2 linked regions of the Homo sapiens genome follow. The protein of the gene in region 1 interacts with the protein of each later gene in a pairwise test. Each region holds a gene or a part of one and is shown on either strand. Other genes may lie near its edges. The genes, in order: BPTF and SMARCA1.

Evidence for each region.
Region 2: the proteins of BPTF (region 1) and SMARCA1 interact in binary tests that used the Homo sapiens proteins (3 or more experiments, as listed by UniProt).

Annotation. Positions count from the first base shown.
Region 1 is NC_000017.11:67,828,110-67,839,305, forward strand, and holds part of BPTF (nucleosome-remodeling factor subunit BPTF), read left to right. Parts: intron 1-11,196. UniProt on the Homo sapiens protein: Regulatory subunit of the ATP-dependent NURF-1 and NURF-5 ISWI chromatin remodeling complexes, which form ordered nucleosome arrays on chromatin and facilitate access to DNA during DNA-templated processes such as DNA replication, transcription, and repair.
Region 2 is NC_000023.11:129,518,014-129,529,683, reverse strand, and holds the start of SMARCA1 (SWI/SNF-related matrix-associated actin-dependent regulator of chromatin subfamily A member 1), read left to right. Parts: upstream 1-6,193; 5' UTR 6,194-6,313; coding exon 6,314-6,487; intron 6,488-11,036; exon of another isoform or gene 11,037-11,108; intron 11,109-11,236; coding exon 11,237-11,323; intron 11,324-11,670.

The sequences.
Region 1 (11,196 bases):
TTAGTAGAGATGGGGTTTCACCATGTTGGCCAGGCTGGTCTCGAACTCTTGACCTCGTGATCCGCCTACCTCGGCCTCCCAAAATGCTGGGACTACAGGTGTGAGCCACCGCGCCCAGCCTAGTACGTTTTTTATAGTAATAATTTTTACCTTAAGAAATCACATGTTGGTCTTCTTTGCACCCAGAGCCGGTAATTGAAACACGGAGACTGAATTGCATACACCCCTGGAGGAAGTTTTTTCTGGTTAAAAAGAGCTGAGACATTTTGGCAGGACAGTTCAGCTAACTTTAAGTCCTATTCGAAGGCATAGCAAATAATATTTAAGATTGATGGGTGTGCATATGCTGACTTAAATTACAATTTGTAGCTAGGTGTCCTTTAAGAAAAATGTGTTTACTTTTGATACTTTTGTGACATTTTGTTTTTCTTTTTTTGAGAAGGAGTTTTGCTCTTGCTGCCCAGGCTGGAGTGCAATGGCACAATCTTGGCTCACTGCAACCTCCACCTCCTGGGTTCAAGCAATTCTCCTGCCTCAGCCTCCCAAGTAGCTGGGATTAAAGGCATGCAGCACCACGCCCAGCTAATTTTGTATTTTTAGTAATGACGGGGTTTCTCCGTGTTGGTCAGGCTGGTCTTGAACTCCCGACCTCAGTTGATCCACCTGCCTCAGCCTCCCAAAGTGCTGGGATTACAGGCATGAGCTACCGTGCCTGGTCTGACATTTTGTTTTTCTTAATGACACTTGTGTCTACTTGTCTTATCCTTATATGAAATTATTAACTCCTTAGAGATAAGTATTGAGCTTATTCCCCCTGCAGCTCCTGTAACAGAGTTTTGCACATAGCAGGTGCTCATCAAAGATTGGTTGGATAAATTATTGTTAGTAGATAAGAACTTGTAATAGATGAAGTTTTGATAACTCTACAGTGGGTGTCATAATCTCTAAATACTTTGGATTTAGGAAACTAAAAATTGGTCTAATTGTTTTTTGTTTTTGTTTTTTGTTGTTGTTGTTTTTTCTAATTGGTTTTTGATGGACAATTTGATCAGTGAATGTTTTTTTTTTTTTCTGTGAACGTTTTTCATTGCAAGAGTTACTTTGTTTTTGAGTTGCTATTTCATATTGCTTGCCAGGCATTTTCCTTTATTGGCTGTGATGTTAATTTGGATGCTTTACCTTTTGCAACACATTATTTTTAAAGATTATGGTAAAATAGATGTGACTTTTTTTTTTCCTTATCTCTTCTAAAAAAAAACGGGATACATGTGCAGAACGTGCAGGTTTGTTGCATAGGTATACGTGTGCCATGGTGGCTTGCTGCACTTACCGACCGGCCCTCTAAGTTCCCTCCCCTTGCCCCCCACCCCCCGGATGTGACATTTTGAGTTCTAAACTTTTAGAACATGCCCACTTGCCTGGAATGAGTAACAATGCATGACAGTGAGTTGATTAGGCTAAGTACCAGTTTCATTGGTTTTTTAGTCTGTACTTCCTGGAGGAAGGCTGTCAGGTAAATGTGTAGATAGAAGAAAAAAAGTTTTAGAACTGGTTTAAGATATCCGAATAACACATAAAGAAGTATGATTGATGAGTTTGAATCCTGTTGTACTGTGAAGGCTGAAAGAGGAATTTACCTTATTGGTAATTTAGAGTAATTTGATTAATTTTTATAGTTTACAGGGTTGGTTTAAGTACTGACGTGACATTCCTAACATAAGAAATAGCTCACTCCTAATACAAGAAATAACTCAGTATTTTGTAGGTAATGTAACAATGCAAAGACATTAGTTGACATTACTAAAGTCATGAAAGGTTTATTCATTGAAGATTGTTTTCCTTTTATGGAAAAAATGTAAGGATGCCAACTTTTTAGTATAAAATTGAAATCACCTAGTTTTGCTTAAGCTAAAGGCATATCGCTGAATAATGCTTTAATTCATTTTTACTTTTTAAATTTAGACTTACTTCAGCCTATAGGTTTTATGACATTGCCAATATACTGAGAAGGATTGTATAGGAAGTGTTTTCAATAGGCATTTGGTAAGGTTCTGACAGCACTTTGAAATTAAGCATTTGCTAATTTTAAGAAATTATATTTAAAACAGAATGGTTCTTGTGTTGCAGTCTCAGTCTTGTGTGAGACTTCTGAGAATACTTACCTGGAATTTTAAAACTTGGAACCTCTGATAACTTCATGAAACAAAAACCCTGGTGTTACCCTGGGAGAGTTAGTGATTTATGTCCTCTAAGGATTGTGACATTGGAGATCAGTGGCAGAGATGCCATGAATGAACCATAGATTCAAATTCAAGCAGAATTTGTCACTGGTTTGACAATATTATTCCTATCAGTGTCAATATCTTTTCAGTATAATTTCTGATTGCTGCATGCGAGGTACGCAGTGCAGTGGGCATTTTAAGGAGGGCGAGATAATATACCCCATTTAAGGGGATTGATGTGGGCATACACTTCCTGGATGGGCATGTGGAGAGTAAGGAAAGGCAGATTGAGGGAGGGAGGGAGGGAGAGGGAGCGGGAGCGGGAGGGAGCAGCAGGCACTGATAGTAAAGTGTGGGCAGTCTCAAGTAACTCGGTTTAGCAAGAGCCTGAGTGTGTGAATAGGAAATAAACCAAAGCTCCTTTGTATGCTGTGTTGGGCAGTACCTAGAGGATCAGGCTATAGCAACTGTACTTTCCCCCTTTTCTGTAGAATAGGGATTGGGCTGGATTGTGATCCTCAGCCCTTTTTCACTCCTGAACACCCAGAGGAGTTATGTTGTATTCCCAGCAGCACCATGCACAAACATGAAACAGAACCATATCAAATCACAGAGATGCTGTTGAACCACTGGTGTAGCTGTTTCTCCCAAATTGAGAGAATTACTGGGGAAATGGCCTGAAGCTCTCTCTCTTTCACATCTGTTTAATTTTGGGTATTGGGATGATCGGAAGATCTTGAAAGAGTGGGGTATGATTTCAGAGGGATGCCACGAAGTATAGCTTAGATTCTCTTCTGCAGGATGGATTGACAAGGACGAGATAGCTGGTGGGTTTTGTAGCCCTGGATGGAAGATCAGTCCAGGAGGCACTTTAGAGTTCTTCAGGCCTTGACACATAGATGTGTAGAGAGAGGAATGCATTACATATGCCTCCCTAAGAATGGTAGCACTTTCAGTAACAATGGGGAGGTCAAGATTATAAGGGAAATTAATGACATCTGTTTTCAGTTATCAGCACCTCAAGAGGTTAAACATGAGAATTAAACAAAATGAGAGCCAAAAGGGTTATGAAAAAGTTGGGCAATATGATTTGTGAGTAGTAGAGAGGTGTGTCCTAGGTATGCATTAATAAATAGTCTTGCACACAGTTCGTGCTTTTCTATTCTGCTCACCCACGGGCGTGTTTGGAAGTTTGTATTGAAACATGCGTATCACAGGACTGGGGATGTTAAGACCAGGAACTCTGGTCTCTTCTGTTAGGTCCTCCTTTCCTCTTTCCTCAAGACCCTGTGTCTTCCCTTTGACTAAAGACCCTTAATGGTGGAGACATGGGGGTGAGAGACTGGTAGTCATGGTGGGCAAGTAGTATTCTGGGTGACACAGGAGCAAATCCTAGCTGATGCCCTTTTCCCTTCCTGCTCCTTAGCCAGGCTGGAATCCCTCTTCCTGGGAGATCTTCCCTGAGTCCTGTTTTGCACCTTGGTCTTCCTTCTCTTTGAGTGCCTGCTTACGGTGGTTATGATCTCAGCACTAGCTTAATGCTGACACTGATTATTCTAATTTTATTTATTTATTTATGAGACAGAGTCTCACTCTGTCACCCAGGCTGGAGTGCAGTGGCATAATCTCGGTTCACTGCAACCTCCACCTCCTGGGTTCAAGCGATTCTCCTGCCTCAGCCTCCCGAGTAGGGGACTACAGGCGCCTGCCACCACGCCCGTCTAATTTTTGTATTTTTAGTAGAGACAGGGTTTCACCATATTGGCCAGGCTGGTCTCAAACTCCTGACCTTGTGATCCGCCTGCCTCAGCCTCCCAAAGTGCTGGGATTACAGGGGTGAGCTGCCGTACCCGGCCTCTAATTTTTTTCATGCTTTTGGTTTTTTAAAATGATAAGCCTCAGGAGGCAGCATGTTTCTTAATTTAAAAAAAAAAAACCACTTATACATTAAAATGCACTTTAAAAGATCGAAGGTGACCGTATAGAAATAATTAAAATGCACGTAAATATAATTATAATGTTTTAATTGTTTTGTCTGCTGGTATATATCTAAAATTTTTATGTTTTTCTAGATAGTAAGTTATATTCAACTATTATTTTGTGATTGTCACATTTTAAAAATAGTGACAGTAATAGCTAAATTTATTGGACATCTTCTGAATTGCTGAATGATTTTCAAGCAATATTTATGAAAATTCAGTTTTTAAAAGGTAACAGCTGTATGGAGATATAATTTATATACTGTAAAATGTACCCTTGTAAAGTATATAATTTAGTGGTTTTTTTAGTATATTGACAGAGTTGTGCAACCATTAACACTACCTAATTCCAGCACGTTTTTATACCCCCGCAAAAGAAGCCCGCACCGTCAGCATCACTCCCTGTTCTTCACCTCCCTCCTGCTCATCCCTGGCAGCCACTAATCTACTTTGATTCCCTGTTGATTCGCCTCTTTTTTTTTTTTTTTTTTTTTTGAGGCAGAGTCTCGCTCTGTCACCTGGGCTGGAGTGGAGTGGCGGGATCTCAGCTCACTGCAACCTCCACCTCCCGGGTTTAAGCGATTCTCCTGCCTCAGCCTCCCAAGTAGCTGGGATTACAGGCACCTGCCACTGTGCCTGGCTAATTTTTTGTATTTTTTTTTTTTTTTAGTAGAGACAGGGTTTTACTATGTTGGCCAGGCCGGTCTCGAACTCCTGATCTTGTAATCCACTCGCCTCAGCCTCCCAAAGTGCTGGGATTACAGGCGTGAGCCACTGCGCCCCGCCTGATTTGCCTCTTATGGACATTTCTTATAAAGTGGAATCATATAATATATGTCTTCCATCATTTAGCCTAATGTTTTCAAGCGTTATGCATATCTTAACATGTATCAGTACTATATTTGAATAACACTTCATTGTATGGCTATACAGCCTTTTTTTTTTTTTTATGGAGACAGGGTCTTGCAGTGTTGCCCAGGCTGACCTCAAACTCCTGGACTCAGGCAATCTTCCTGCCTCAGCCTTCCAGCCTCCAGAGTAGCTAGGATTACAGGCACACATCTCTGTGTCCAGAGACCATGTTTTGCTTATCCATTTCTTAAGTTCATGGACATCTGAACTGTTTCCACTTTTTGGCCATTAGGAATAATGCTGCTGAGCACATTCGTGTACATGTTTTTATCTGTACGTATGTTTTCATTTCTCTTGGGTATATAACTAGGATTATTTGCTGTATTATTGCAAATTCAGTTTTAATTTCTTTCTTTTTTTTTTTTTTGAGACAGAGTCTCTTGTCGCCCAGGCTGGAGTGCAGTGGCATGATCTTGGCTCACTGCAACCTCTGCCTTCTGGGTTCAAGTGATTCTCCTGTCTCAGCCTCCTGAGTAGCTGGGACTACAGGTGTGTGCCACCATGCCTGGCTAATTTTTGTATTTTTACTAGAAGAGGGTTTCACCATGTTGGCCTTGCTTGTCTTGAACTTCTGACCTCAAGTGATCCACCCGCCTTGGCCTCCCAAAGTGCTGGGATTACAGGTGTGAGCCACCGTGCCTGGAAGAAAGTAATTCAGGAGTTAGAATGAATCCTTAGTGATAGATTGGTTAGGCTGGGATGTGGTGAGTGGGAGAAAAGGATTCAAGGATGAACTGACTTCTGAATCTCCCTTATTTCTCTTTTCCTTATTCACTCCTTATTTCTTCTCTTCATCTCGAATGGATCTAGTAATACTGATTTCTTTGTAGTTCTCACACACCTAACTCCTAGTCATCCATCCATCACCTTCTCCAGCCTGCCTTCTCTGATCACCATTCCCTTTACCGCCAGGTGGGGCTAAGTTCCTGTGTTTCCCACCCGTATAACCTCCAGGACCATGTGCATTAAGTGTTTTAGTTTCCAAATATTTGGGAATTTTTTAGCTATCCTTCTGTTACTGATTTCTAATTTAATTTCATTTTGTTCAGAGAGTATACTTTGTATGACTTTAATTTTATAAAACATTTTTAGAGGTTTGTTTTGCACCCCAAAATTTTGTCAGTCTAAGTGAATGTTCCATATGTACTTGAAAAGAATTTTGTATTCTGCTCTTGTTGAGTGGAGTATTGCATAAATGTCAATTAGGTCAAGTTTGTTGATAATGTTACTAAGATCTGTCTGACTTTCTGCTTGTTCTGTTGATTACTGAGAGAAGTCTTGAAGTCTGCAGCTATTGTGAAGGATTTGTCTGTTTCTCCTTGAAGTTCTAGCAATCTTCATGTATTTTGAGGCTTTATATTCATGTATTTTGAGGCTCCTTCCTAAAGTCCATAAACCTTTAGGAAGGATTATTTTATCCTCTTAATTATTTAACCCCTTTATCTCTATCTTTATCTGTTAAGACATGGAGCTGAAATGGGCTTTTAATATCTGGCCCTTCTTTAATTACAACCTACTTTGGGCAGGGACAGTCTCATTCAGTCTCTGTAGTGCCTGGTTCAATCTCTTGAATGCAGTAGGCAGCACAAGTAATTGTGGAACTGAATGATGAGTCAAAGAAAGCCTGTGGATTCTTTTCACGCTCTATACTGTCCAGTATGGTAGCCACTAGCCACATGTGGAGAGTTAAATTAATTAAAACTAGGCAGGCCAAGCGTGGTGGCTCATACCTGTAGTCCCAATACTTTGGGAGGCTGAGGTGGGAAGATCACTTAAGGCAGCAGTTGAAGACTAGCCTGAGCAACATAGTAAGACACTGTCTTTACAAAAGAATTAAAATAGTTTGGCAGAGGTTGGCATGCCTGTAGTCCTACCTAATTGGGAGGCTGAGGTGGGAGGATTGCTTGAGCCCAGGAGTTAGAGGCCCTAGTCAGCTATGGACCATGCCACCACACTCCAGCCTGGGTGACAGAGTGAGAACCCATCTCTTAAAAAAAAAATTTAAGTAAAATGAAAAGTTAGTTTCTCCTGTGGCACTAGCTGTTATATGTTCATTTCAAGTGCTCTATAGCCACATGTATTGCACCACACAAATGTAGAGCATTTGGGGCATTTCATATCATTGCAGAAAGTTCTCCTGGACTCATTGTAGTCAGTCTGCCTCTGTTAGACCAGGGGGAATTTACCTAACATCTCTTTTTCTCTAGCCTTTTATTTGCCCTAAATCCTGCACAGCTTGGGTAGCCCCAGCACTCTGGCTGAGTGAAGTCCTCCTTTGTGGAGACTCTGGGCCCAGCATTATTTGTGTATGTGATGGTATTGCATTTCTGCAATAAGATTTGGGGTCATGTGTGAGATGACTTTCCATTATTTGTTGTCCTTGGTGGTAGGGTGAAGAGGAAGTTAACATGTGATTAGAAAATCTGCCACAGTCCTGGTAATTTTTTTTTTTTTTTTTTTTGAGACGGAGTCTCGCTCTGTCGCCCAGGCTGGAGTGCGGTGGCGCGATTTCGGCTCACTGTGAGCTCTGCCTCCCGGGTTCACGCCATTCTCTTGCCTCAGCCTCCCAAGTAGCTGGGACTACAGGCACCTGCCACCATGCCCGGCTAATTTTTTGTAATTTTAGTAGAGATGGGGTTTCACCATGGTAGCCAGGATGGTCTTGATTTCCTGACCTTGTGATCCGCCCACCTCAGCCTCCCAAAGTGCTGGGATTACAGGCGTGAGCCACCATGCCTGGCCCAGTCCTGGTAAAATTAAGCTAAAAGTTATATATATAGGCCAGAAGAGAAGGAAGGATTAGGATTCAGAGACTTTTGGTTGAGAAATTAAATTTGATAATTCAGAGAATTTCAGTGTTATAAAAGTGTAAAAGCTGATATGCAAACTGAATTGCGAGATGTTAGTATGTCCTAGTGTGTCTGGGTTCTCCTGTATAAAACGTCTTAGGAGTCACTGGCCAAATTATTTATCTATGGAACCCCCTGAGATTTGCTAAGAAAGTTATACTTAGACTTCTTTCTACTCATGGATATGTTCTGTAATTCACACGCTTGGGAAACGGCATGGCCATGTGATTCATACCAAATGGCAATGTTCAGTAGGTGCAGTTTATATATTTTACTAGAAATATGGCTTCTTGCTCGATTTCAGTATGTTCATAGTGCCTCTTTTGAGGTCTGTGTATAGTATATAGTATATTCTATTTATGGAAGTTAAGAAGTATTTCAGAAATGCATGTATTAATCTGTGTGGAATTTCTCTTGTCCTGTTCTAATTCTTGCATAGATACTTGTCTCAAGAGATGGTCCAACATTTAAAATAGTGAATGACATCTTAGCTCATCCTAAAACAATCCTTTCTAAAGGTTTATGAACTTATTCATAGAGCCTCAAAATACATGAGGACTGATAAAACTCCAAGGAGAAACAGACAAATCCTTAACAATATCGTAGACTTCAACACTCTTCTCACAGTAATCAAGAGAACAAGTAGGCAGAAAGAAAGTGCAGTTTTCTGTTTTTGTAGACAGCAAAATTATTTCACACACTTCTTAAAGTCTTATTCAGTAAGTTACTCATTTCTCCACCTTATGACTGTACTGTGCTTTCAAAGTGCTGTGCAAAGAGTAAAATGTTTTAAGGTGGTTTTACTGTAATTTCACATACATATTTGAACTTTTGAGTCTGAATTATCCAGGTGAAATGCATTGGATTTCTGATCCTCTGTAAACTTGGAAGATTACCTTCTTCCAGGTATATTGGTTTTCCTTAATTGCTTTAATAGCATGAGTTGTGAATCTTCTCTGTGTCTCAGAAGAAACCTAACAGTGGAGATTGTTTATGGCAAGGGTCACAAATTTACATGCTCAGGTTAGGACCCTCTTTAAGGTAAAGACATGAAGTGCCCCCCTTTTTATTAATACATAACTGCATTTGCTGATAATATTGATTTGCCTTAAAAAAACTAGTCCTATTGAGAATTCAGGCTCTTTTTGCGTTTACAGACAGTGCTGTCCTGAATGTGCTAGAGATGTACCTTTAGTCACTTAAGCTGGTGTTTCTGTAGGGTAGATTCCTAGGACTGGGATTGGATTGTTGCATTATAGTGTGTACCATTTAAAAGTCTGGACCAGATTATACTCTCAACATCTGTTTTTAAACCTTCCCTAGTCTGTGCTTATGTGTTTTGTTTTTTTTTTTTGAGATGGAGTCTTGCTCTGTCGCCCAGGCTGGAGTGCAGTGGCATGATCTCAGCTCACTGCAACCTCCACCTCCTTGGTCCAAGCAGTTCCCCTGCCTCAGCCTCCTGAGTAGCTGTGATTAAAGGCGGACGCCACCACGCCTGGCTAATTTTTTTGTATTTTTAGTAGTGACGGGGTTTCACCATGTTGGCCAGACTCATCTGGAATTGCTGACCTCAGGCAATCTGCCCACCTTGGCCTCTCAAAGTGCTGGGATTACAGGCGTGAGCCACCGTGCCCAGCCTATGTGGTTTTAAATTAACTTTTTCTAGAATCTACTAAGGTTTACTCAGACCTTTAGCAGGTGTTCTTGGATACTGACTAGGCCCAGAGTCCTCTTCTCATCAATTTATTGGCAAATACACTCACTTGCGATGTGATATGAGACCCTGAGTTTTACCTCCCAAATGGCAGGATGTCTGTTTTGAGAGTTTCCTGGCCAAGTGGTGGAAAGTACCATGGAAATGGAGTTCTTCATTGCTTCTTACTTAACTTGAGTTTGGACCATAGAGAAGTCATTCTTGTGTGGACCTCAGTTTACTCACCTGTACAGTATAGGATGGACTAGATGATCTAATGGTCAGGGGACTGGCAAACTTGTTCTTAGGTTACCAATTAGTAGATATTTCAGGTTTTGCAGGCCATCTGGCTCTGTCACAGCTGCTCAGCTCTGCCCTCATAGCAGGAAAGCAGCCATAGACAATAAGTAAACAAATGAGCATGGCTGCTTTCTAATAAAACTTTATTTACAAAAACAGGCTGTGGCTGGCCATAGTTTATTCACCCCATTTTTGAGCTCTTGACATTCATTAGTCTGTGATTTCGATAATTCGTTTAGGAAAAAGGCTTTGAGTTTTACAAATAATGCTTCTGAAAATCTAGTAAAACCTTTAAATTTTATTTTTGCTTCTTCTCTTTATCAGGAAAGTAATGTAGAACATTTAGAAAACCCAGAACATTAATATTTTGGTTCCTCTCATTAGTTAACCATCTTTGTGTAAACATGTGTATGTACATACTTTTTTTTTTGAGCTGGAGTATCGCTCTGTCACCCAAGCTGGAGTGCAGTGGCACAATCTTGGCTCACTGCAACCTCCACCTCTTAGGTTCAGGTGATTCTCTTGCCTCAGCCTCCAGAGTAGCTGGGACTACAGGTGCTCGCTGCCATGCCTGGCTAGTTTTTTATATTTTTTTAGTAGAGACGAGGTTTCACCAGCCCAGGCTGGTGTTGAACTCCTGAGCTCAGTCAGTCCTTCCTCCTTGGCTTCCCAAACTGTTGGGATTACAGGCGTGAGCCACCACACCCAGCACATGTGTGCATACATACTTTTTACAAAATTGGAAGAAGTATAATTCATTTGCTAAATATTTTCACTTATGCCATGAAATCAGATTTTATCTTTGTGTATAAAAATACCTGCTCTGCTGGGGCTTCTAGTTGAAAACTAATGAATTTTAAAAATTAATTTAGTATTTAGCCACCTATTCTTTTTTCTAATTGTTTCTTGTAGCTTTTGCTTTGATTGGAATAATTTTACTCTAGGAATAAAGTTGTGTCATCTGCAAAAATGAATCATATGTACACATCTGATTTTCTTACATTTGTATCTCCTTTTTCTCTTCAAATTACATTGCCCTCTACCATTGATGGGAACCTGGGTAATAAAAAAAAAAGAAAAAAAAGAAACAAATTGCATTGTGTACCACCTCCAAAGCAATGTTAAATGTTAGTTATAACGATAGGCATCTTAGTATGCTTTCCGAATTTAATGGAACTGATGCGAATATTTCATGGTTAACTGTGGGTTTGAGACCTTCAATGTGTTGAATGTATTCACCT
Region 2 (11,670 bases), on another chromosome or scaffold:
GAACTGCCTTCCCTCCTACCTCTTACTATTATTATGTATTTTTTGAGATGGAGTTTCACTCTTGTTGCCCAGGCTGGAGTGTAATGGCATGATTTCAGCTCACTGCAACCTCTGCCTCCAAGGTTCAAGTGATTCTCCTGCTTCAGCCTCCCAAGTAGCTGGGATTATGGGCATGCGCCACCACACCCAGCTAATTTTGTATTTTTATTAGAGACGGGATTTCTCCACGTTGGTCAGGCTGCCCTCAAACTCCCGACCTCAGGTGATTCTCCCATCTCGGCCTCCCAAAGTGCTGGGATTATAGGCATGAGCCACCGTGCCTGGCCCCTCCGGCCTCTTTTTAAACAAAGACAAATCGAGTATGACTCCTGTCCTCAAAAAAGTCACAGTCTAAGTAGAGAAGTAGCCTAACCCTCTTCTCCCTCATTACTGCCTTTCTTCAGAACTTACCTTTGGGGAAGTGTAACTGCACCAAATTGCTGACCCTGATAAATGATAATGAACAGAGAAAATGAACTTGGCAAACAGCACTTCCGCCTTATTCCTATTTTAGTTTAGCACTGACTTTCAGACTTACTTTATCATATTCTGGCTTTTTCCTTGGCTTAGCCAAAACTCAAAGCAGCACCCTGCTTTTTTCTTTTTGTTAACTACCATCCACTGAGTATCTGTTATATGCCGGGATCATGTTAAATGTTTTATACACATATTTTACATTAAATCCTCATGAGATCACGTTGAATTAGGTATTATTATACCCATTTTACAGATGCAAATCAGAGGAGAGAGAGGTTAAACAATTTAGTAGAATCTGAACTCCAAGTCTTTCTGACTCTACAGCCAAAGCTGGTAATAATTGTACTATTTTGCCTCTAATAATACCGCCATGGATAATATTGTGCCTTTACATACATAGTAAATACATGGAAATCAATGGTAACATGTGCATCCATGAGAATTTCTACTTGCATGTAATAGAAACTAACTCTGACTTATTTAAGTGGAAATAAAAAGTATTAAATAGTGAAAAAATATTGGGCCTTTAGCAAACCCAATTCAGATTATTTAGCATGTGTTTCGTGTTTTAGGGCATGTATGGGTGGGTAGAATGTCAGGGTTGGGAGCATTTAAGAAAATCTTGCTGGGCGCAGTGGCTCACGCCTGTAATCCCAGGACTTTGGGAGGCCAAGGCGGGCGGATCAAGAGGTCAGGAGTTTCAGACCAGCCTGACCGACATGGTGAAACCCCATATCTACTAAAAATACAAAAATTAGCCAGGCGTGGTGGCACACGCCTGTAGTCCCAGCTACTCGGGAGGCTGAGACAGAAGAATCGCTTGAATCCAGGAGGTGGTGGTTGCAGTGAGCTGGGATTGTGCCACTGCACTCCAGCCTGGGCGACAGAACGAGACTCTGTCTCAAAAAAAAAAAAAAAAAAAAGAAAGAAAGAAAATCTCATTTTTTTTCCTGAGCTAGTTTTGCAAAATTGCTTAAAAGTAGAAAAATCATTTTATATACCGCCTAAAACAATGTCAAAAATCATTCCTCAATCAAGTAACATTATTGTGAACCGTATAATACTCACATTGCTTCTGCTACATTATACATTACTACTGCATTGTCTCTTCTGTGTGAAATTGTTCTGTTCATTTTTTTTTTCGGGACGAAGTCTTGCTCTGTCACCCAGGCTAGAGTGCAGTGGTGTGACCTTGGCTCACTGCAACTTCCGCCTCCCGGGTTCAAGCGATTCTCCTGCCTCAGCCTCCCAAGTAGCTGGGATTACAGGTGCCTGCCACCACACCCAGTTAATTTTTTTTATTTTTAGAAGAGACGGGGTTTCACCCTCTTGGCCAGGCTGGTCTCGAACTCCTGACTTCATGATCTACCCACCTCGGCCTCTCAATGTGCTGGTATTACAGGCGTGAGCCACTGCACCTGGCCTGTTTTTTTTTGTTTTTTTGTTTTTGTTTTTGTTTTTGACTCACCCTATCTACAAGGTCATACTCCTTCTGTTAAGGATTAATTTCAACTTGTTCAGTTTTGAGTAATACGTTTTGATTCATCTATAAAATGGTATTTATCTATTACATAAAGAAACACCTTCATTGAGGAAAACTAGAATAGAAAAGCAAAATAAGAAAAAAATATTACACACAATCCCACCACCTTGCTGTATGTAACTACTGGTTTAACATTTGGAGTAGAACCTTCCAGGGTTTGTCCTTTGTGGAAATACATTTATGTAAATAGTGTTTTTCAGTGTGTGTGTGTGGTGAAAATGGGATCATTCTAACTTTTTGCCTGTATGTTTTCACTTAACAATATACAGGAATATATTTTCATGTCAACAGATACCTGATTACATAATCATTCATTTTTTTTTTTTTTTTTTGAAACGGAGTCTCACTCTGTCGCCCAGGCTGGGGTGCAGTGGTGCCACCTCGCCTCACTGCAACCTCCCCCTCCAGAATTCAAGCAATTCTCCTGCCTCAGCCTCCCTAGTAGCTGGGATTACAGGCGCCCGCCACTACGCACAGGTAATTTTTTGTATTTTTAGTAGAGATGGGGTTTCATCATGTTGGCCAGGCTGGTCTCGAACTTCTGACCTTGTGATTCACCTGCCTCGGCCTCCCAAAGTTCTGGGATTACAGGCATGAGCCACCGCGTCTAGTCAACACATAATCATTCTTAATGCTTGCATAACATTCCATTTATTAATGTACTATACAATGTTTTGCCAATCCTTTCTTCTTGGACATCTCAGTTCTTTCTGTTACGCTCTCCCCTTCTTTGCACAAACTGTCCTGAGTCCCATTACTGTTTTGAGAGTTTACTTTAGAGCATGGGTGTCCAACCTTTTGGCTTCCCTGGGTCATACTGGAAGAATAATTGTCCTGGGCCACACATAAAATACTAATGCCAATGATAGCTGATACTCAAAAAAAAAAAAAAAAAAAAAAAAAAGGTCCATGCCGAATTTTCATGATATCCACCACCACAGATAGGCAAAAAAGTTCTTGCATTCAAAGGGTCGGACACGGCTGCTTTAGAGGGAACACCATGGAGATAGATGGCAGAAATATTTTTCAGTTATTTTCTCAGTATAATTTCTACTGTCAAGGAGGAAGCCCTGTGAAGACCAGTGAACTTAATAAAGATGAAAAACGAGGTTTGGACTAGACAGTCTGGGGTTTGAATGTCACTTACTAGCTGTGGAACCTTAGATGAGTTGTTTAGCCTAAATCTCCATTTTCTTATCTGTAAAATAGGGATAATAATATTTATTTCATAGAATTATTTGGAGGATTAGCAATATCATATGTAAAGAATCTAGCACAGTGCCTAATACAATAGTGGGTGCTCAAGAAATGGTAGACATATACTAGTTATTACCATGACCTTTTCCTTAAAATACAGATCACCAAGGAAATATCACATTTTCAAAAATGCCACTATCATAAATGTCTTTAAAAAAATAGTGAGAAAGCTTACTGATATGAACAGAATGGTTACTGTAGCTGTAAGCAAGACAGTGTGTCCAGAATCTTTTCTGCCAGTTTCTGAAGAACATTAATCAGTCGGATCACAATGTGGTTTTAAGTCATACTGTGGTTTCAATGACAAATTTCAGATGCAAAATAAGAGAAGGAACACGAAGCCTTTGGCTTTTCCTTTATGAATTTTGTAAAACATTTAATATCACCAGTGGACACATGTTCTAGTAGCTACTAAACAAGTTTGGCTATTCGAGAATGATTGTTGAATAACCTCTATAATCTACCAAAATGGACGTATTGACTGGTAGACCAAGATTAGTTCTGAGGTTCCCAGTTTATTTTTATTTTTATTTTATTTTATTTTTTGATACGGAGTCTCGCTCTGTTGCCAGGCTGGAGTGCAGTGGCTTGATCTTCGCTCACTGCAATCTCTACCTCCTGGGTTCAAGCGATTCTCCTGCCTCAGCCTCCCGAGTAGCTGGGATTACAGGCACGCACCACCATACCCAGCTAATTTTTGTATTTTTAGTAGAGAAGGGGTTTCACCATGTTGGCCAGGATGGTCTGGATCTCCTTGTGATCAGCCTGCCTCGGCCTCCCAAAGTGCTGGGATTACAGGCGTGAGAGCCAGTTCTTTATAAAAGTTTGCTCTGTTCTCCAACCCCAATGGAATAGAGCAATCCAAGACCATTTCAAATGAAAAGACATAATTGGGGAAAGTAGTAGCAGATAGAGCAAGGTGTTGAGTAGGCTCAGAAATGAGATGACTCTTGTTGAACAAAGTCTACAGATCATGAATTTTAGGCAGATTTACAAATAAGGATAGCACATGCTCTGTAAATAGCAGCTGTTGCCACAAGCCAAAGGGCAATATTTACATGAATCCTGTGGCAAGGTCTGTTGACCAAGCATCGACCTTTCCAGCCAAATTCATATACTTGGTAGCACTTTCAGCCGCGTCATCTTGAAAAGGAAGGATTGCATTATACATGCATGGAAAATTGCCAACGTACAAATATGTTCTGCCCCCAAATAAATTTTTAAATTCTTTTTTTGGAACATGGAACACATGTCCCCACAAAAAAAAGGTGTTATAAAGGGATGTGTTTCCCAGATTTCCTCACAAAAGTGCATTTAACCCACGATGTAACTGAAATAATGTACACTGACAATGAGAAATACAGTGGAACAAAACTGACTTGAAAGCAGGGACACACCAATACACAACAAATATTTCTTGAGCTTTTCTCCTTTGCAGCCCCATGCAAGGAAAGAGGAATTCTATCTTTCAATAGCTGCAACATGGTGAAAAATAAATCCTCCACTGTTGCTGTCCTTAAGGGTCCTTCTCAAGACAGGGTATTTAGGGTGTCCATTGCCTCAAGTATTTATCATTTCTATGTGTTGGGAACATTTCATGTCCTCTCTTCTAGCTATTTCGAAATATACATTGCATTGTTTGTTCAGTAGAGTCACCCTACTCTACTTTGAACATTATAACTTATTCCTTCCATCTAACTGTATATTTGTACTCATTAACTGACCTCTCTTCATTGATCCGCCTCAACCCCACACACCCTTCCCAGACTTCTGGTACCTATCATTCTACTCTCTACCTCCATGAGATCAACTTTTTAGCTCCCACATATGAGTGAGAACATGTGTTATTTGTCTTTCTGTGCCTGGCTTATTTTGTGCAACATAATAAACATCAGTTTCATTTATGTTGCTGCAAATGACATTTCATTCTTTTTTATGGCTACATAGTATTCCATTGTGTATACAGACCACATTTTCCTTAACCATTCACCTGCTGATGGACACTGATTGATTCTGTATCACGAAATGATTTTATATCCATGATCATTCATATTATGTGTTGTATTATTACCAAATAATAATGGAGGTGCAAATAGAACCTGTGCCAAAAAATCACAGTAATTCATTTCAATTGCTAATATTGAGTGCCTACCACATGTTGCCCCAGGTTCGGTGGGTAACCTTGTCCCCTAGGAATTTAAAAATGCAGTGGTGAAGGTAAGAGAAGTGTTCCTGCACATTGGCTACCTGAGAGGTACCAGAGGTGAAAATAGAGCAAATATACGTAAAACTTGAGAGTCAGACTTTGCCTTGTAAGTGAATGTGTTTGCAGCTGCAATCAAGAGATTCAAGGAGTGCTTCTCTTTGTGCAGAATTTAGGAAGGTGGAAACAGCACCGCTAATCCTACCTCTTTAGGGATCCGGGAAAGGGCAGTCCCAGAGGGGTTCCGCGCTTTGCAAATGGTGAAAAAGACCTTCTACAGTACAGTTAGGAGCAGAGGAAAAGTTCTTTGTGCAAGAAGGGGAGAGCGCCCCGAGGTACAAAGAGCAGATTTAAGGGAAAGAGGATTCGTTCTGCACGCATCTGCGAGGGGAGCTCAGGCTCACTGTTGGGGGCGTGTGGGAAAGGAGATTTTCAGGGGGCCGCGAGTTGTGGGTTCCCGCCTCCACCCCTGTCCGCGCCCCACACTCAGGCAACAGTTGGTCGTGCGGGGCCGGCCCGGGCTCTGGGTGGGGAAGGGGAGTCTCGCGATCGTTGAGGGGGGGGGGGTGGAGGAAGGGGGGAGAGTGACGGGGGGAGGCCATGACGTAGGGTGGGTGGACGGAAGTGGGGCAGGGTTGAGGGTTATTTAAAGAAGGGGGGGCCTGAGCGAAGGGGTTGGAAGCGGAGTGATTCCCCACCCCTGCTCCATCTAGCTCTTTCCAGTGCAGCCACTGCCGCCGCCCAGGAGCCCTCGTCCCCTGCCTTGTCCCCCTACTCGTTCCCGCTCCCACGGCATGGAGCAGGACACTGCCGCAGTGGCAGCCACCGTGGCAGCCGCGGATGCGACCGCCACTATCGTGGTCATAGAGGACGAGCAGCCCGGGCCGTCCACCTCTCAGGAGGAGGGAGCGGCCGCCGCGGCCACCGAAGCCACCGCGGCCACGGAGAAGGGCGAGAAGAAGAAGGAGGTAAATAGGAAGGGGGTGTGTGTGTGGTGGACAAATCCTGTGCCTGGCCCCTCTGAGGGGCCCAAACCCTGACCTTTCGGCGCCGACAGGTACCCGCGGAGCTTTGCGGGGCTAGGGGCGGCGGGTGCGGGGGTCGGCGGCGGAACCGCCTGGCGTTCGCTCCCCTCCCCCTTTCCTTCTCGCCGCCTGGAGGACGGGGGCGGGGCTGGGCGCGGGCGGGAGCGGCGCGGGGTGGAGGGGTGCCCGCTCTCCCGGGGCCTGGGGGCTCGGGAGCCCCTCGACAGCCCCCGACCCCCTCCACCTTCCCGGAACTCGGGTAACGGGGTGGGGGATGGGGCTGTGCAGGAAAAAGCCTCCGCCTCTCCCTCTCCTCTCGCTCGCTCCCTCTCCCCCCGCCTTCCCGTCGGCCTCTGCCTGGGAAATCTGGGCCCTTCAATCCCACACTCGCGCTAAAGGGGTTTTGCTGGGGCTTTTTTTGTAATTTGAATTTCAAGGTGCTGGTGGTTGCTGGGTGGAGGGTGACAGGGAAGACATTTCTTTCTTTCATTGGCAATGTCGGTCTTTTGGATGGCAGGAAAAAAACCATCCCTTGTTCGTTTGAACCCCGCCTGCCGAGGTGGGGGTGTCACCCCGAGGAAAGGAGCTCTCTGCGTCGTACCCCCCCGCCCCCCCAAACTGAGGAACCGTGGACGCTGGCTTAGGAAAATTTCCAACATCTGCACCCTCACCCTCTTCTGCCCCGCCCCCGACGGTATAGGGTTTCACTCCAGGGCCACCCCAATGGTCCCTCAATCCGGCCCCAAGCTTTCCAGGCTTCCGCCTCCCTCTCCTAGTGGGCGCTGCTGGCTCCTGGACACACACAGGTTTTTTTTTTTTTTCTCCTTTAATTTTTAAAAAACTCAGCGTCGCCAAGATGAGCTGCTTCTAACGTAAGGGAACTGCTCTGACACATATTAAAGCCAATCCAGAAAATATGTATTATCTCCATAAGGCACATTTCGTGTGGCCCGAGACATGCAAATAAAACTATAAAACGTTGAAAAATTGACATAAAAATAGGATGGGGCATAAGCATTTTTGATGTATGATAAAATTGCATAACTAATGGTTTATGTGTGGATTTTTTCCTATTTACGAGTAGTCATATCGCAATTTTAAAAAGGTGGGTAATTATGCTTTAGAGATCTCAAGTGGCTTTGTCTGAATCATTATATGATACTATACGACCAAATGAAAAGCTTTTGAGGAAAATGAACACCTTTCGCCTTAAATGAGAAGAGTAATTTTAAATTTAGCAGTTGCTTCTGTGACATATTTTACTATTACAAGGTTGACTAAACAGAAGGACAATTGTAGTGCTAAATGAAAACCGTAGAAAACATACACATTGTAAGATCTACGCGGTACTTGGATTAGTAAGACAATATTGTTGGTTAAAAGTGGGTGTAATACCAAGCATCAATATAAATCAAATGTTGTGAAATTCGGAAATGTCTGTGTGCCTTTTATTCCCTGGACTGGGCAAATGTGAGTGCCAAACTGCCTTTTGTATGGCAGGAGAGGTTGTCGAATTTCCAGATTGTATAAATTTTTGAATTTTGTATAAAATTTTGTATTGTGAAAAAACGGGAGACCAATAAAAAAGCTATATAATATAAACACTGAGTTGATGCCTACATATTTGTCAACTCTTGCCTCATTAGAAATTGCCCTACCAGTACTTCATTTGTCCACCCAGGACAGGGAAATGAGGTGCTGTATGTCAGGAACTTCCTGGATATCCATTTTTATTTTTAATTTTTCCTTAAAAAATGAAATACATTACATACTACCTTGACACTTTAAATTGCATACTAAAAGTGCAGATTAACCTCTTCTTCATGGCCATCAGTTAGTGTACTTTGACAGTGACACAAAGGCACCTGAAATCCCGCAGGTTGTTCCCTCTCAATTAAGTAACCACCTACCAGACTCTTGCAGTGTTGTGTTGATTTTTAAAAATAATTTTTCCAGCCGGGCGCGGTGGCTCGCGCCTGTAATCCTAGCACTTTGGGAGGCCGAGGCGGGTAGATCACTTGAGGTCAGGAGTTCGAAACCAGCCTGGCCAATATGGTGAAACCCCGTCTCTACTAAAAATACCAAAAAAAAAAAATTAGCCAAGTGTGGTGGCAGGCACCTGTAATCCCAGCTACTTGGGAGGCTGAGGCAGGAGAATCGCTTGAACCCGGAAGGCTCAGGTTGCAGTGAGCCGAGATCCCACCACTGCACTCCAACCTGAGCAACAGAGTGAGACTCCGTCTCAAAATAAATAAATAAATAAAAATTTTCTGTCTTCTTCCTTAATTGCCAGGCTGTTAGCGATCACTTTTTAAACACCTCTAGTTTCACCAGAAATAATATGTTAGTTTATGATAAAGATTATAGGTGTAACAAAACCATAAACTCATTTGAAAACCACTGTAAAATACAAAAGTGTCAGTGATAAAACAGGGAGAGGGAAATAATGACACGTGCACACCAAGAATCAGTGATGCTACTGCAGTGGAAGACATTTTCGTCCTTGGTTTCTGCCGTGTCTTCTTGTAGAGTGCCTTCATCTAGTGATCTTTCCATGTCATTTACTGTTGCTTGTATTCTCGGTGACATGGGAAGCCAGATTTTCAAACTTGGTGGAATTGTCTACCAAATAAAAAGAAAATAGGTTTCTGAATGAGAGCGCTTTCATGATGAATACAGTAGATGAGAATTAGTGAATTGACCTGTGACATTTACCTACTCAAAGGTGTTTTTGCTTACTTTCTGGTTGTTGAATTTAGTTGGTTTAAGTGACGGTTGGATTACCCAACACTGTAGACATGAAAACGTCAAGAAAAAGGTCATGGTCTTTAAAACAAGCCATTTTGTTGACCTTGTGCTGCATTCTCATGGCACCTAGACTCAGATAACAAAATCCAAAGGAATTCATTAGAGTCTCTTAGTCACTTTTCATCTTTTCTTGTATGAAAAAAATGTAGTTTTGAGAATACACACACACACACACACACACACACACACACACGAGAGAAGGTTTAGAAGGTAGGTATTTTAAAATTTGTTGTGGAAGATAGTGCCAATTAAGTAATTACCCACAGCTTTTAATAGCCCTGCTCAAGATTAGGATTTTAATTAGCATATAATTAGATTTTGATGGTAGTCTACCGCAAGGTAAGCAAAAAAGTAATGGGTAAAATGTTTTTCTAGGATTAAAGCTTTAATTTTCTGTAAGTGTACTTCCCACATTATTATATATATTTGTGCGTATGAGGCAAAGTAATTTTCATTGTTTTGATACTGGAAAACTGCACTTCATATAACCTTTCAAGGAATGAATGATAAACGTATGGATTTGATACCCAATTTTTCTTGTTGCTTTGAAAATAAATATGATTTATATTATATATGGCAGTCTGAAAGTGTGAGTTTGAGGGGCTCTTTAGCAGTTTTCTATTCTCATCCATCCAGGATTACATTCAAAACATTCCATATAGATGTGTACGTATCAGATGCTGTAAATCAAGATGGTTATTATTTGGGTTAGTGTAACTGAATGATATCTGATCAGTGCTACAAAGTAAGAGTCTGGACAAGGTCAAATTCCATAATCTCAGTTTGGATTTCCTCAAAATAGAAATTTTAGTAAATATTGGAAGACATAATGGGGGCCATATTTTTCTTATGTTTAAGGTCACATTCTGTTGATTTTTGACCTAAGTTTTCATAAATAGGTTGACAAAAGCCATGATAGTTTTCACGAACAAATTTGTGTTTTCTCTTATGCAAAGTATGTGTTAAAACTGAAATGCTCTCATCTTTGGTTCTGGTGGGTAGATTTGTGTTTTTATTATTTTATTTCTTGGTTTCTTATAGGGAAGGAGGCTTATTCTATATATGTATTTATATTTGCCAGTACAGGCTTGTCTTTACAAAGGATAGGGTGCATGAGATAACCCCCTTCCCCAGATAATCTCTATATTAAGTTATTGATTGATGTTAGTTTTCGCTAAATTACAATTTAAAAATATCAAACATTAATAGTTAAGTAGCCTTGACAAATTGCTTCTACAAGATGTTTATGCAATATAAATAGTTTAAAGTAGTTTTCTTCCCAGTTAGAGAAAATTAACATAAGCCAAAAGTTTAAAACTGTACTATTATATTAAGTATATGTGATCACATTGCATTACATAAAAAATTAAATATTCTTATAATACTATGAAAACAATTTTAAAAATATCGTTTTAGGAACAGAAACCACAGTTTTTTTTTCTGAAAGTGTGGCGTATTTCCATGACATAAAGGAGTGTTTCTTAGAATTAATATTTACTTTCTTTGAATTATTTGGTTTGTGGTTGATATTAGCCTTTTCTAGATTTTAAAATCTCTTATTTAATGTTTACACATTTTCTTACACTATAAATTAAAGAATGGATGAGAAAGCTCAGTGTCTTGCCTTTTGGGTTTTATTCCAATTAATATTTCTTTGGCATTCACAATTTTTCAGATTTTTTTTATTGGACCTCAGGTGTACAGAACTGGATTAATCATAAGCCTTGTTTTGTGACATGCTCTCATCATTGGTCCATACATGTCCCACATTGATTTATATATTTAGTTATGTAATTACTTTCCGCCTTCTTCTAATGAGAGCATTGACCAGTTTAAGAACCTTGCTTTGCAATTTGGTGACATTTATTTTCTTTGAAATTCTAGAAAAACGTTTCTTCATTTCAACTCAAACTTGCTGCTAAAGCGCCTAAATCTGAAAAGGAAATGGACCCAGAATATGAAGAGAAAATGGTAAATGTAGTCTTGGATAGGATAGTGAATGCTGTAATTAATTTTTATAGTTGAGATGTTAAAGATGAAAAAATACATGTATATATATAATGCATAGAGAATCATTGATTTTAGAATTGGAAAATAATTTAATATACAATCTATCACAATATTTTCTGTTGAATAAATTAACCTCCTCATTTTCAGATGAGGAAATAAAGGATCAGGGAAGCTATATGTCATAGTTAGGACTAGAAGTCACATCTCATTTTGGTTCGGTGCTCTCTGTCCCATAATAAAGTGCTTTAAGCTAGAAATATTTATTTATGAGGTGAAAATATCAGTGGTAATACCACTGTGGCTTTGTG